Homo sapiens: one gene and its partners. The protein of the gene in region 1 interacts with the protein of each later gene in a biochemical or structural test. Each region holds a gene or a part of one and is shown in the gene's direction. Other genes may lie near its edges. The genes, in order: YWHAQ, WWP1 and CDK11B.

The links.
Region 2: the proteins of YWHAQ (region 1) and WWP1 form a complex in vitro, tested with the Homo sapiens proteins (one large-scale study listed by BioGRID).
Region 3: the proteins of YWHAQ (region 1) and CDK11B form a complex in vitro, tested with the Homo sapiens proteins (one study listed by BioGRID).

The regions. Positions count from the first base shown.
Region 1 is NC_000002.12:9,620,841-9,624,497, reverse strand, and holds part of YWHAQ (14-3-3 protein theta), read left to right. Parts: intron 1-3,657. UniProt on the Homo sapiens protein: Adapter protein implicated in the regulation of a large spectrum of both general and specialized signaling pathways. Binds to a large number of partners, usually by recognition of a phosphoserine or phosphothreonine motif.
Region 2 is NC_000008.11:86,464,493-86,466,877, forward strand, and holds part of WWP1 (NEDD4-like E3 ubiquitin-protein ligase WWP1), read left to right. Parts: intron 1-2,301; coding exon 2,302-2,385. UniProt on the Homo sapiens protein: E3 ubiquitin-protein ligase which accepts ubiquitin from an E2 ubiquitin-conjugating enzyme in the form of a thioester and then directly transfers the ubiquitin to targeted substrates.
Region 3 is NC_000001.11:1,656,887-1,660,643, reverse strand, and holds the start of CDK11B (cyclin-dependent kinase 11B), read left to right. Parts: upstream 1-1,639; 5' UTR 1,640-1,730; exon of another isoform or gene 1,731-2,188; intron 2,189-3,145; 5' UTR 3,146-3,158; coding exon 3,159-3,269; intron 3,270-3,341; exon of another isoform or gene 3,342-3,379; coding exon of another isoform or gene 3,380-3,388; intron 3,389-3,757. UniProt on the Homo sapiens protein: Plays multiple roles in cell cycle progression, cytokinesis and apoptosis. Involved in pre-mRNA splicing in a kinase activity-dependent manner. Isoform 7 may act as a negative regulator of normal cell cycle progression.

The DNA.
Region 1 (3,657 bases):
GCCTTGGATTAGTCCATAAATAAAATGAGCTGTATTAAGTTGTATTGGATTGTGTCATGCTGTCCTTTGGCTTCTTCCTAACGTGTTGATATCTTACCTGAACCTCTTGTCTAGCTAGACTTGTCATTTTTCCCCTTGTCATTATTGTGTGTATGCTGTTCAAACTCTACAGTTCACCTTACTGAAACTTATTCAGTGGGTCCTATTTTTTGTTTGGTTTGATTTGATTTGTTTTTATTTTTGAGACAGAGTCTGGCTCTGTGGCCTAGGCTGGAGTGCAGTTGCGCCATCTGGGCTCACTGCAACCTCCACCTCCCGGGCTCGAGCCATCCTCCCACCTCAGCATCCGGAGTAGCTGGGACTACAGGCACTTGCCACTATGCCTGGCTAATTTTTGTATTTTTTGTAGAGATGAAGTTTTGCCATGTTGCCCAGGCTGGTCTTGAACTCCTGAGCTCAAGCAATCCACCCAGAGTGCTGAGATTACAGGCGTGAACCACTGTGTCTGGCCGGGTCCTATATTTTCAAAGTGCCACTTCTTCATAGTTGTCTCCAAAGCCCTGAGCTCTTTTAAAGACTTCGCACAGACTGCAATTATATTGAAATCTATTAGATGCAGTGAAAATTGATGAACGGCAAATCTCCTCCCCTCCTTCATAGTAGCTTGGCATATGTGGTTCAGACTTTTTAAATTTAATTTTATTTATTTATTTATTTATTTTGTTGAGACAGAGTTTTGCTCTTGTTGCCCAGGCTAGAGTGCAGTGGCGCAATCTTGGTTCACCTCAACCTCTGCCTCCGGGTTCAAGCAATTCTCCTGTGTCAGCCTCACAAGTAGTTGGGATTACAGGCATGCACCACCACACCCGGCTAATTTTGTATTTTTAGTAGAGACGAGGTTTCTCCGTGTTGGTCAGGTTGGTCTCAAACTCCCGACCTCAGGTGATCCTCCCGCCTCGGCTTCCCAAAGTGCTGGGATTATAGGCGTGAGCCACTGCACCCGGCCGTGGTTCAGACTTTTAATGCAGTGGTGAACACTGTCAACAATTTTTCTCCAAACAACCCCTGGGAAGAAGATCGTTGTTGCATGCTTTATGCTAGGATTTACTTAAGTTCTCGAAGTGGAATTTCCAAATCAAAAGATGTGCGGTTTTTTCCAGATAGCCTTCTGAAAAGGTATGTGTATACACTGTCATCAGCAGTGGTTGAGAAGGTCATTCATTTCCCCTAACCCTTTCCAGCACAAGCAAGTTTTTAAGGCTAACAAAAATCTGGTGACCAGAAGGTTTAACGTCTTATCTCCTTGTTCAGTATTGGATGTATGAGGACCACCTCCCTTCTCACAAAGGACTGCTTAAGAAAACTAGTATTTTTAAGTCTCATGTAGTTTCATTTAGAACATGATACCATAGCATGGGATTAGTTCAGTCAAGGTGTTGCTTTGGCAGTTGGGAAATCTGGTTGGCTATGGTAATGTTCTCTATTTTTATCATTAAGACCAGTTTTTGTATTTAACACTAATCCTTTCCAAATGGCAACAGAAAACGTATCTGAATTCATACCACTGACTTTCTGGATATCAGGGAGGTGGTAGAGAGACATCATTTAAAAGATGTGAAGAGAAGCAAAGTTTATCCATTGCTACTTTAATTAAACTCTTAATCCATAGATAAGTCAGTGATAAATATGATAAATTACTAGATTTGAAACTATTGTTTGCATATTGAGTATTTAAAGACAAAATGATGATAATACCTAGGACTTCAGAGTAATTGGGGGAATACAGATGAAACAGGAGTGTCTATGAATTAATATAGTTGCAGCTGGCTTTAATTGGAATTCATTGTACTATTCTTTGTTCTCCTGTGTACCTTTAAAATTCCCTATTATAAGTTTTTCCTCCCCTAGAAATTCCACTCTTAGGTGTTTACGCAAGAGGGAATGATGCATGGGGCCAAGGCGCATAGGTACAAAAATGTTAATAACAGCTTTATTCTAAGAGCAGAAAACTAGAAATAATCCACTAGTAGGAAAATTGATAAACACTGATGTATTCATAAATGGAATACTATTCAGCATTAAAATGAATGGACCACTGATACTACAATATGATTGAATTTCAAAAACATGCTAGGTGAAAGAAACTTTGCATGAAAAAGTACATAGTGTATGTGATTCCATTTATATGAAATTTTAGAACAAACACAACCTGTTTATGGTAGGAAAAAAAATCAGGAATAATGGCCTCTGTGGGAGAATAGGCAGAGATTGGGAAGGGGCAGGCTTCTGGGATAATTGTATTTTTTTTTTTTTTTAATACTTTAAGTTCTGGGATACAAGTGCAGGACGTGCAGGTTTCTTTCATAGGTATACATGTGCCATGGTGGTTTGCTGCACCCATCAGCCCGTCATCTACATTAGGTATTTCTCCAATGCTATTCCTCCCCTAGCCCCCGACGCCCTGACAGTCCCCGCTGTGTGATGTTCCCCTCCTTGTGTCCATGTGTTCTCATTGTTCAACTCCCACTTGTAAGTGAAAACATGCGGTGCTTGGTTTTCTGTTCCTGTGTTAGTTTGCTGAGAATGATGGTTTCCAGCTTCATCTATGTCCTTGCAAAGGACATGAACTCATCCTTTTTATGGTTGCATAGTATTCCATGGTGTATATATGCCACATTTTCTTGATCCAGTTTATCGTTGATGGGCATTTGGGTTGGTTCCAAGTCTTTGCTATTGTGAATAGTGCTGCAATAAACGTATGTGTGCATGTGTCTTTATAGTAGAATGGATAATTGTATTCTTTAGTTGATATGGGTTTGGGTTTTATACATTTGTCAAAACTCAGCAAATGTACACCCAAGATTTGTGCATTTTGTATGTAAATTTTGCTTTGAAAAAAAACTAGTGATATGCCTGTACTTATGTCTTCAGCTTGTAACTGCTAGAAATGTATGGGTATCTGAAAAAGCAAGTATGGCAAAAGGTTAATGGTAAGATCCAGGTGGTGGATATGTGGGGGTGTTCACTGTAATTGTTGGTTGCCATGTATTGGGGGTTATGATATTTCACATCACTGGTTGAGTGTCTTTAATACATATAGCAAGAAGATAGTGTGTAGCCTGTGTCTTGTTATCCTCAAGATACGAGAATGTATAGAACGGTATTGATCCCCACTTAGGAGACATCACTGGCACCATCACTTTTTTGTTTGGGTGATGAGTGCTAAGTAGATTGATGGAGTTACCAGATGCTGTGTAAGACGTCTTAATTGGCCATACTCTGGGACAGTGGTTCACAAATTTGATCTCAGGACCCCTTTTTAGAAAATAAAATAACTTTAACAAAAAATTGAATGAGAATAGCGGCATTGCATTTCATTCAACCTATTGTAGTATTCCACCTCCTGTAGCTTCTGGAAAACTCCACTTGTGAGAAAATGACAGTGGAAAAAAAGCAAATATCTTAGACTTATGAAAGTGGTTTTACTTTGTCTCCTCTCCACCCCACAAAGGATATAGGGGAGACCTCTAGGGGTTCCCAGACTATACTTTGCCCTATGAGAATTTAATTACTGAAGTTAATAGTAGAACTGCTGTTCTACGAGAATTTTATTACTGTGTTTGGGTGATTGAGCAGTTTATTTTCTGAGTAGTCATC
Region 2 (2,385 bases), on another chromosome or scaffold:
ATAAAAGCTCTTTGCAGTTGGAAATCCATTTTTTTTTTCCCAAGATAGAGTCTTGCTGTGTTACCTATGTTAGAGTGCAGTGGCACAGACACAACTCACTGCAGCCTCAACCTCCTGGGTTCAAGCAATCCTCCTGCCATAGCCTCCTCAGTAGCTGGGACCACCAGTGCACGCCACTATGCCTGGCTAATTTTTTAATTTTTTGTAGGGACAAAGTTTTGCTGTGTTGTCCCAGGTGGGTCTTAAACTCTGGGCTCAAGCTGTCCTGCCTTGGCCTCTGAAAGTGCTGGGATTATAGGCATGAGCCACTGCTCCCAGCCAAGGTTGACAGTATTTTTAAGAGTGAAAAGGAGTCCTGTGACCAAAATTTGAAGACCTCTGCCTTCAATAAAAGTGATAGATCCATATGTATACACACATGCGCGCGCGTGTGTGTGTGTATTGAGAGAGAGATTTTTGAGTCAAAGGGAGAATTAAAATAGATTTCAAATTTTGTGAAAGGAAAGTAATTACCACCCACTGATTTCTGTTTTCTCAAAGTATAAGGAGAAGTCACTGGCTAAGAGTGAAGAAAGGAAAAACTTTTGAGAGAAAGAAGGAATTGGGAGAATTGTTAGAGAATAGGCAAGTATTCATTAGAGGAACACGGCTAAGATTGCTAGGCAAAATTGGATTGCTCACTTGGATTAGAGCATGAAACAAGTTGACAGCAAAGAGCATAAGCTTCCTTTCCCCACCACAGCCCCCTCCCCACCCATAGCAACTCGAAAGCAGCAAAAGTTTTTGAAGAGTGGCATAAACTGGTATGTCTTTTTAGCAAAAAGTAAAAAAGAAACAAAACAAATAGACCCAAAGAATTCTCTGATGGTCCAGGTAAGAGATGATGGGGAAGCATATACAAAGGGATGTAGTGGCAGTAGAAATGATGAGGAGGAGCCTGGGCAACATGACAAAACTTCGTCTCTACAAAAAAAAATACAAAAGTTAGCTGGCCATGGTGGCATGCGCCTGTACTCCCAGCCACTCCAGGGACTGAGGTGGGAGGAGGGAGGATTGCTTCAGCCTGGGAGGTCGAGGTCGCAGTGAGCCGAGACAGTAGCCTAGGCGACACAGCCAGACCCTGTCTCCAAATAAATAATCAGGAGAAAAAATGGAATATTTGGTAGATAGAATGACAGAATTTGGCAAAGGCTATATGTGAAAGATGTAAGAGAACAGAAAGTGACTGGTTGTCTTGTATAGGAAGTATTAAAAAATAATTTTTTTTTCTGACCTTGTTATCATACTCTACCTTGAAGTATAAAGGGGAGGGCAGTATATGGTCTGCTTAGTTGCTGCTATTAATATCTTTAACTTCATTTAAAATACAAAGAATACAGTCTTAGAACAGCACTGTTTTATTTAGATGCCTTGTTTCAAAGGCTCTTTCCTGACTCTGACATGGGAGGGTCAAGGGCACATGGAAAGTGGTGACAGTGGTAAGAAGGCACCTGGATAATCTCTAGAAACCTTCCACATGGGAAAATGAAGGTACAGAAGGGTTCTGACTTACTCAGGGCTATCTCACTAGTCACTGCTACTGTAGGGACCAAAACCCTGAACACCCGAATCCTAATCTAGCTACTCAGTGCTGTACCTCACAAAACGAAATGTTATTCCACCTTTGTAAACTGAAAAATAATAGTTATTTTAAGCATTTTTTAGTATTTTAAAATTTTTATCAGTTAATACCAGAATGGAATTGAGTATGGCAAGATTGAAAAAGTGTCATTTTAGAAGAGTTTATATATGTGGTTAGATTATTTGAAAAGACAAAGAAACATATATATTTGTTAATTGACTGTCTCTACCCCAGAATGTAAATTCCATGAAGACAGGGATTTTAGTTTTCTTCACTGTATCACTAGCTTATCAGTTATATAAAAAATTCTCGGTAAATGACTGATGAATGAGTGACTGAGTGGATGAAAGAAATGGACTCTTATCCTAAGAGAAGTTAAGAGGACTCATGACACATGTAACAGGAATAGTAAAAAGAAAATGGATTTTTTTTTTTTTTTAAATTTGTCTTTATCCATATTGCTACACTTATTATTTGTAATTCCATTTTCCTCTTGGAGATGTTAAAATAGTTTTTATATGTAAGTCTTAAATTTAGATTACTCTAAATACTTCTGGCAAAATTTTAACATATATAGTATACATATATCCATTCAGCATTTCTATGTGCTTTGAAAAGTATTCTATTAGATTTTTTTCATTTTATTGAAAACATCTGATTTTGTTTTTGTTTCTGTTCAGTTTTAATCGCTTGGATCTACCACCATATAAGAGTTATGAACAACTAAAGGAAAAACTTCTTTTTGCAATAGAAGAGACAGAGGG
Region 3 (3,757 bases), on another chromosome or scaffold:
GACTCCGTCTCAAAAAAAAATAAAAATAAAAAAATAGGGAGATTTCCCCAGTTACCAAGAACTCAGGAAGCAACATTAAGAGCTTGGGGGAGGCCAGGCGCGGTGGCTCACGCCTGTAATCCCAGCACTTTGGGAGGCAGAGGCAGGCTGATCACGAGGTCAGGAGATTGAGACCATCCTGGCTAACACGGTAAAACCCCGTCTCTACCCAAAATAAAAAAAAAATTAGCCGGGCATGGTGGCAGGCGCCTGTAGTCACAGGTACTCAGGAGCCTAATGCGGGCGAATGGAGTGGAGGCGGGAGAATGGCGTGAACCCGGGTGGCGGAGCTTCCAGTGACCCGAGATCGCGCCACTGCACTCCAGCCTGGGCAACAGAGCGAGACTCCGTCTCAAAAAAATAAAAATAAAAAAAGAGCTTGGGTACACAAAGCAAGCAGCATTTCATTCCGGGATGAAAAAAATTCCGATACCCATCGCCCTTCTTGGGCCCTTGTCAGTTTCTTGCCACATCTTTCATTTTCCCATTTCAGGCCCAGTAAATGCGGATGTTTATCTTCCATTGTTTGTTTCCTGAGATTCAGATGTCTAAAGCATTTTTCTGTGACTTTTCAAGTCAAGAGGAAAACCTGACATATGGAAAGGGAATTAATTGCTCGTTTTATCCTCTTCTCCTGCAATGCTCTGAATCCATGGGTTTGGAGTGGGGCCCTGGGAGTTGGGGGAAGCACCATACCCAGTGAGTCTGCACTTTGAGGACCCACTGCCAGTGTCAGCTTCAAAATCACATTGTAAAAGGCCGGGCGCGGTGGCTCACGCCTGTAATCCCAGCACTTTAGGAGGACGAAGCGGGCGGATCACTTGAGGTCAGGAGTTCGAGACCAGCCTGGCCAATATGGCGAAACCTCGTCTCTACCAAAAATATAAAAATTAGCCGGGCGTGGTGGCGCGGGCCTGTGGTTCCAGCTACTCGGGAGGCTGAGGCAGGAAAATTCCTTGAACCCGGGAGGAGGCTGCAGTGAGCCAAGACCACGCCACTGCACTCCAACCTGGGCGGCAGAGCAAGGCTCCGACTCAAAAGTAAATACATGAATAAATAAAATAAAATCACATCGTAAGAGCTCTCCCTGCCCTGTTTCTGAGTAAGGTTCAGAGTTAAATTCCGAGATCGGCCTTTACAAGACACACAGACCTGAGGCGCCTCACGAGGTAACCAGCAGGTAAATGGAGCGCGCTCCACCCACCCGCCACTAGGGGTCCCAGCGGTCAAGGGGGTGGAATGCGGGCGTCCATCGCGAAGGCATTCTGCTCGCAAGCCTTGGCACAGGCGCGGGCTTCGCTACCGGAAAAGTCCCGGTAGGATTCCGGAAGCCGGCCACGCGTTCCGCGCAGGCGCAAACTGCTCCAAAAGTGGGCGTCGCTCCTCCGGAGTCCCGATTCCTGCGTCACAGCCCGCGCCGAAGTCGGAAGTGCGCTCACCGGGCTGTTTCTTCTGGCGTCCTGGACCTGAGCAAGCGCTGTTTTATGCGTTATCATCCCGCGCAGACACAGGAAGTGCCGCACAGAGCGAGCCCCTGTCGTTGTCTCGAGTTCTGGGCCGGAGGTCGGCTATTATATCATCATTACGCGCCAATACAGGAAGTGACGATACTTTTGGCGCGCGCCGGTTGCTGTTTCTTCTCTGGCTCCGGGACCGGCGGCGGCGGCGGCGGCAGCGGCGGCGGCGTAGGGGTGAGTTCCGACTGGGCGGACCAGGTGTGGGAGCGCGAGGAGAACTGCGCACCGAGGTCTTTCTTCCGAGCAGGCCTCGGAGCGGGGCGGACCCGGGCCCGGGGGCGAGCGACACCCTCGCTTCCGCGGACAGTCTCATCCCGCACGGAACTTTGGGTGGTGGAGGCGGCGGGTCCAAACGCTGTCTGGAGCCAACGTCTGCCAGGCTGAACCTCAAGTGTGCGGGACTGAACCCGAGGAAATAGCCCAGTGCCCGGGTCAGGTGGCCTTGTTCGCGAGCACATCTCGGAGCATCTCCCCGGTCTCAAGGTGCAGCTGTCCAGTGTGCTAGTGGCTTCACGTAGTCCAAGCGGTCTTTCTAGCAGATTCTGACAGTAAAAGCAGTGTTTGATGAGTGGCAGGTCCTGAGTTAAGAGCCTTTAAACGGATGATCTTTAATCCGCGATCGATACTATCACGTAGGTGTTGTTATTCTGGTTGTACGGAAGACTAAACTGAGGTGAATTACGTTACCCAAGACCATACAAGAATGACAGAAACGAGACTTGATTTCAAGCGGTCATTTTTCAGAACCCATCACTCTTTTTTGTCGCCCATGCTGCAGCGCAGTGGCTGTTCACAAGCGCACTTCAGCCTGGAACTCCTGGGCTCAATCGGTCTCCCATCTCAGCTTGCAGAGTATATGGGACTACAGGCGCTCGCCACCTTGCCTGGCTTACAACTTATCATTCTTGTTTTTTTTTCTTTTTTTTTTGAGACGGGGTCTTGCTGGAGTGCAGTGACGCGACCTCGGCTCACCGGAACCTCCGCCTTTCGGATTCAAGCGATTCTGCTGCCTCGGCCTCCCGAGTAGCTGGGATTACAGGCACCCGCCACCACGCCCAGCTAAGTTTTGTATTTTTAGTGGAGACAGGGTTTTCGCCGTGTTGGCCAGGCTGGTCTTGACCTCCTGACCTTGTGATCCACCCGCCTCAGCCTAGAGCTTACTTTTTTTTTTTTTTTTTTTTTTTTAACCAAGTCTTACTTTGTTATCTAGGCTGGAGTGCAGTGGCGCAGTCTTGGCTCATTGCAGCCTTGACCTCTCTGATTCAAGTGATCCTCCTGCCTCTAGCAGCCTCCTTCCTGTAGCTAGGAATACAGGCACGCGCCACCACACTGGGCTAACTTTTGTATTTTTTGTAGAGACGAGGTTTTGCCATGTTGCCCGGGCTGGTGTTGAACTCCGGAACTCCAGCGATCTGCTCGCCTCGGCCTCCCAAAGTGCTAGGGTTACCGTCTTGAGCCACTGCGCCGGGCACAACTTCTTATTCTTAATGAGGATTTATTCTGAATCCCTCAAAAGTGACTAGGTTCAAGTGTTCAGCACCATAGCTTGCTGTGTCCTGATGTAGGCTGAATTATTTTTCTTTTTGCAGTGTTTTAACTCAAATGGGTGATGAAAAGGACTCTTGGAAAGTGAAAACTTTAGATGAAATTCTTCAGGAAAAGAAACGAAGGAAGGAACAAGAGGAGAAAGCAGAGATAAAACGCTTAAAAAATGTAAGCCATATTTTTTAAGTAAGTGGTTTTCTTAAAGGAGATTTAATTTCTTTGCCCTCATTTTTCCATTAGAACAACGCTTCTTCGGTGAAGTTCTTTTGTACTTCCAAATGTCGCAGGTGAGCCCAAAATCTATTCTAAAAATTAACAAAAACATTCAAATATTCAGTTGACATTAAAGGCAGATTTAACACACTAAAGCTGTGTCTAGATTGAGCATACATGGAGAATAAAATACGTTGAATGTTAAGTCATTAGCAAAACTGGACTAATTTTTCTCGGTTCATTAGTATGTTCATAATACTATCTCTAAGTATTTTTAATATAGTGGGAACTTGCCTTGAAATTAATATAAATATTTTACATCTTTCTTGGTTTGCATGGTAATGTACTCAGGAAACCTTTTTAGTAATTTGGTAAGAGGCATTGGCAAAGTACCTCTTTTGCTAAGATCTTTAGCAGCATCATTTGGGATGTTAGTGAGTACA